Linked DNA regions of Homo sapiens: region 1 is linked to region 2. The links come from fine-mapping of genetic effects on gene expression. A gene starts in region 2. The other region holds a variant in brackets. All regions are shown on one strand. Distances are from middle to middle. Region 1 overlaps SCML2 (Scm polycomb group protein like 2). Region 2 holds the start of BEND2 (BEN domain containing 2).

Region 1 (2,918 bases), 32 kb before region 2:
TATGAGGTTATTACTAAGATTTCACGTCTAGTATCCCATTTCTCTTACATTTTTTAAAATAAGTGACTCAAAAATAGTTTAAGATAGAGTGCTCTTCTTAGGAGACTTTGATTCTGACAAATCTAGTGTTTGCATATTTTAGCAGTAATTTTGAAGACATTTTACTGAAGTATAGTATACATAGAGAAAATTATACATGGAATGTAGCTTGATTAATTTTCATGCCTGTATAATCAGTCACTGGTTGGAAAAGTAGCTATTACTAGTACCCTAGAAGCACTGCTAATGTGTCAAACCCCCTTTAATCCACTACTACCCCTCACTTCGCACAAGGATACCTACTGTCCTGACTTCTAGTACCATATATTACTTTTGCCTATTTTTGAACTTTATAGAAATGGAATTATACAGCATTTACTCTTGTGCCTAGCTTTTTTGGCCTATCATTATGTTTGTAAGTTTCATCTGTATTGTTGCATATAGTTAGATCATTCATTCTCATTGCTGTATAATATTCTGTTGTATAAATATGCTACCATGGTATGTATCCATTTGAGTGCTTTCTGTTTTGTGCCCTTATAAATAGTGTTATGTTTTGTACTCTTATAAATAGTGTTATCATGAACATTCTATACACGTCTTTCTGTTCCTGTATCTATCTTGGAGGGAATTGCTAGGTCACAGGAAATGCATAGATTAAGCTTTAGTAGATACTGCCAAACAGTTTTTCAAAGTGGTTGCCTCAGTTTACTTTCCTATCAGCTCTCTGCTTTTTTAAATAGATTATAATTCTTAGGTGAAATTTTTTATTCTTTGATCTTTTCTGTCCATTTTTCCTGTTTTCTTGAACATATTCATCAAAATTGCGTTATAGTCTTTGTCTACTGACACCAGTAGTTTTTCTCTCAATAGTTGGTTATATGGTCTTACTTCTTTGCATGTTTACCACTATTTTTTTGTATATGGGACATTGTATATAAAAGATCTGCAGAAGCTCCAGATTTCTACCTTAAAAAGTTTCCTCTTTTTTAAGCAGAAAGAAGGAGGGCTCATTCCATTCAGTGATTGAGCTGGGTTGGGACTGAATAGCAGTTTTAGTAAGACTCAGTCTATCTCCTGATTCCTCGCTATTCTTCAGGTGTTACTTTCCCAGGATTTTGATTGAGAACCTGGGAATTCCCTAGCTCCTTAGCCTTGAAAGACTGGGGAATTGTACTTCCCTTCTTCAGGGGTTTGCTGCTCAGCTCTTTAGCCTTCTTCCTCATGTATTATCACAACTTTGCACCTGTGTTTAGGTGGCTTGTGTGTTTGCCACAAACACACAATAAAATAAAGACCCCCTGGTGGGTCTTTATTTCTTAAGCATCATGAGACTGTGAGAGATTTCAGCGTGCCTTTTAAGAGTTTTCAGCCTAACTCCCCAGCTTCCTGTATAGCTCCAGAACTTGGCAAATATCCCATGGGGGAAAACCAGCTGAGTTTGAGTTTCTGATTTGTCACTCCAGCTGTGTGAAGCTGCTAAATCTTTTTTGATTTATTTTTGCCTAGGTATGGCCCTCTGCCTGTGTCAAGTTCTATTTTCACTGTAGTGCCAAGAATCAGCAGATTCCTACAGGGAAAAAATATGA[C/T]GAAATCTTCAGTTTAGACTAGAATGGTTCTTCCCTTCTGGAATTGGATTTTATTAGTTCCTATGACTGCTATACTTTGAGGATGCTTTTCTTATAGTAACTTTATTGAGATATAATTCACATACCATAATTTCACCCTTTTAGAAGTATACAATTCAGTATTTTTTAAGTGTATTCACAGAGTTGTGCAGTCATCACCACTGTCTTCATCACCCCCAATAGAAATCCCATACCTATTAACTATCATCCCTCAATGTCTTTTCCCCCTCACCACTGGATACCATTTATTGACTTTCTTCTGTCTTTATAGATTTTCCTATTCTAGACATTTCATATTAATAGAATCATATAATATGCAACCTTTGTGTGTGGCTTCTTTCACTTAGCATAATGTGTTTTGTTGTTTGTTTGTTTTGTTTTTTTGAGACGGAGTCTCGCTCTGTTGCCTAGGCTGGAGTGCAGTGGTGTGATCTTGGCTCGCCACAACCTCTGCCTCCTGGGTTCAAGCTATTCTCCTGCCTCAGCCTCCTGAGTAGCTGGGACTACAGGTGCACACCACCATACACAGCTAATTTTTGTATTTTTAGTAGAGACGTGGTTTCACTATGTCATCCAGGCTGGTCTCGAATTCCTGACCTCAAGTGATCTGCCCATCTTGGCCTCCCAAAATGCTGGGATTACAGGTGTGAGCCACTGTGCCCACCCTATGTTTTCAAGGTTCACCCATGTGGTAGCATGTATCAGTGCTTCATTCCTTTTTATGGCTGAATAATATTCTATTGTATGGCTATATTATGTTTATCCATTTATCAATTGATGTACTTCTGGATTGTTTCCACTTTTTGGCTATTAGGAATGCTGCTGCAATGAACATTTGTATATAAGTTTTTGTGTGGATACGTGTTCTCTCAGGTACAAACCTAGGAGTGGAATTGTTGGGTCATATGGTTAACTCTGTTTAACTTGATGAGGACCTGACAGACTTTTCCAAAGAGGTTATACCATTTTACATTTTCATCAGCAGTGAATGAAAGTTTCAATTTTTCCTTTTAAACACTTGTTATTGTCCATCTTTTTCATTATACCCATTCTAGCAGGTGCGAAATGGTATCTCATTATGGTGTGATTTGCATTTTTCCAGTAGTTGATGATGAGCATCTTTTCTTATGCTTTTTGGCCATTTGTATATCTTCAGAGAAATGTCTGTTCGAATCCTTTGTCCATTTTTAATTGGTTTCATTGTCTTTTTATTGTTGAGTCATAAGAGTTCTTCGTATATTCTGGATACAA
Region 2 (2,918 bases):
ATATTTAAAGGGCCCACATCCATTTTCACAGAGTCGGCAAAAGTGGGTGAAGTTGGAGGTGAGAGGTAACACATTGGTAACCAGCACAGTGTATCCATTTCAGCCCTCAGTTTCTCTATGCATCCTCCTACACATATGTACACTCTGGAACGATAGCAAAACAAGTCTGTGTTTCTACCTAACAATATACACCTTTGCTTCTCACAAGTAAAGAAATTCTTACCCTTCCCCCAAATGAGGAGACACACAGTCACAAGAGTCATTGTGTAACTGACACAGTGAAGAAATGGATCCCAAATTCCAGGCACTGGGTGCTTTCTATTTTATAACATTTAATTCTTAGAATCTTGTGAGGGAGGTGGTGTTCAAATATAAATAAGACATGGTGCTGTCCTCCAGGAACTTAGGAGAGAGGCATGTTGACGAGGATTTATAATGTCAGGCAAAGTAATTTAAATACTAATAGGGACGTGAAGATTACCTGCTGTGGGATCCTTCTTACCAGGGGGCTATAGGAAAGTGTCTTGATGGAGGTATTATTCGAACAGATGTAGTACCGAGAGAGGTTTTGAAAGATGTGAAGACAATAGTAAAGACATGGAATCAATCTAGGTGCCCATCAATGGTGGACTGAATAAAGAAAATGTGGTACATATACACCATGGAATACTATGCAGCCATAACAAAGAACAAAACCATGTCCTTTGCAGCAGCATGTACACAGCTGGAGGCCTTTCTCATAAGTGAATTAACACAGAAACAGAAAACCACATACCGAATCTTCTCACTTGTAAGCAGGAGCTTAAAGATCCGGTACACAGGGACACAAAGATGGAAACAATACACTGCAGACTACTAGAGGGGGCAGGAAGGAGGGGAGGGGTTGCTAGGTATTTATTAGGGGCACATTTTCAAAGTTGGCTTGTTTTCGGATTTGTTCCCAAAGCCGGTATCGGATATGAGGAAGCAACCTGGAAAACACTAGAGGGTCTGAACGAGGAGGAAGAGAAACACGTAGGGTGTTGGGAACAGAGGCGGAAGTTGGGAGATCCTGCGAAATCGGAGTCCCTTTGGAGTGGGGGAGGCCATCGAGGTGTGCGAGGGCCCGGCCCCCTTGCCGCGTGGTCGTTAAGAGGAAAGGCCCTGATTTGGCTGGTGGCGGATCGCCTCCCTCCCGGCTCTCCCCGAGTGCGGCAAAGGAAGGGCTGCCTTTGAGAGTCCCGCAGGAAGATTTAGAAAGTCTCTTACATTGGACTTTTTTTTTATGATGTGCGTTTTGGGACGAGCAGAATTACACTGTTGGCTTCCAGTTCATTATCTCTATCTCTATCTCTACTTCTGTATCTATATCTACATATATTCACACACACATATATAGTACAAATATATATATACATACATATGTATATTTTTGTAAAAGGGACTCTTTAAGAAAGTAGGTCAAAAGTGGGGGAGAGGGCGAGGCCCTTTGACCCCCAGGAGTCACGCACGCATGCCAAGCGCTACTGCGCAGCCGCGGAGACGTGGTCCAGGCTCCTGCCCGGGCCTCATTGTGCCTCGGACAACGAGTGTACGCAGTTACCACACAGTTACCAAGCAGTTACCTCAGAGCCGCGGCGCAGACGTAGGCCTCAGGTCTCGGGCCTCAGGTCTCGGGCCTCAGAGCCAGACCCCGCCATCTCACGATGTCAGAGAGGACCCAGGAACAGGGTAAAGTGACCTCGCCTCAACTGGCCCGCTAGCTTGGGCCTCAAGTTCTGTCAAGAGTCTGGATGGCACCCACTTAGGTGGCCATTCAGGGGCGGCAGGATTGGCTAGTCATTGACCGGGGCGTGTCGGGGGGCGGCCTCTGGGTATTGGCCATCTGCCGCCGATTGCTCAGCGCGCCGGTGGGAAATTTGGCGTGGTGGACCGAGATGGCCCAGGGTTCAGGTCGTCTCAGGGGCTCAAGATGTCCCGGAGACGTGAGGTGATCCTGAGGCTCATGGCGTCTCCGTGGCTCTTGGTGGCTCAGGGTTGGGGTGACTTGGGCTTGTGCCGAGAGTGCGTCAAGAGGCTGGGCCTGGTTGCCCTCTGGCCCGCGGTTCTTTCCGGAGCCTCGAGTGGCTGGGAAACAATCTCGGCGCTCGCGACGCCGGGCTCCGGCGATACAGATCTATGCGGCCGCACTTTTTCTTGAATTTATTGGTTTTCCCTGGTGGGCAGCCGCGGAACACAGCCCTGTTCAGCGTTTTGGCATAGCGGCTGGGGCACAGCCTCAAATTCCGGGTGTTCTGAGGGGGTGCTTTGGGTGGTACCCGCCGCCTCTCCCGGGGTGCCCGCGTGGGTTACATTTTGAGATTTCGAAGCTTATTAGATACTTGATGCTGACTTTCTGGGACGAGCTTATCCTTTTTCAGCTGTTCTCTTTTTGGTGAGGCGGGGTATGGGGGGGCGAGGAATGAGGAATGACTCAGACTTTCACAGAGGTTTTTTGTTGTTGTTTTTTGTTTTTGTTTTTGCTTGGTTTTGTTTTGTTTTGTTTTGTTTTCAGACAGAGTCTTGCTCTGGTGCCCAGGTGGGAGTGCAGGGGCGCCATGTCGGCTCACTGCAGCCTCCGCTTCCTGGATTCAAGCGGTCCTCTCACCTCAGCCTCCTGAGGAGCGGAGACTACAGGCGTGCACCACCACGCCCGGCTAATTTTTGTATTTTTTGTTGAGACGGGATTTCGTCATGTTGCCCACACTGGTCTCGAACTCCTGGGCTCAGGCAATGCTCCCGCCTCAGTCTCCCAAAGTGCTAGGATTACTGGCGTGAACCACCCCACTGGGTGAGAGCTTTGAGTCTAAAGAATTGACAAATTCCCGAGTTGATTTCCTGTCAGACATTTTGCGGTTGAGACATAGAGTCTGAGGCTTTGATGGTAACCGAGTTTGATT

Evidence for each region. PIP is the estimated chance that this variant, and not a neighbour inherited with it, causes the effect.
Region 1: its variant is fine-mapped to the expression of BEND2 in whole blood (TOPMed, PIP above 0.99).

The regions. Positions count from the first base shown.
Region 1 is chrX:18,251,407-18,254,324 of GRCh38, reverse strand. All of the region lies in intron 11 of SCML2 (Scm polycomb group protein like 2), which reads left to right. Among named protein-coding and RNA genes, the nearest start is that of BEND2, 32 kb to the right of the region's middle. The variant C/T (reference allele first, on the strand shown) is at 1,629.
Region 2 is chrX:18,219,518-18,222,435 of GRCh38, reverse strand. BEND2 (BEN domain containing 2) reads left to right here and starts at 1,550. Exons shown (of 14, transcript NM_153346.5): 1 at 1,550-1,710. The coding sequence starts at 1,686.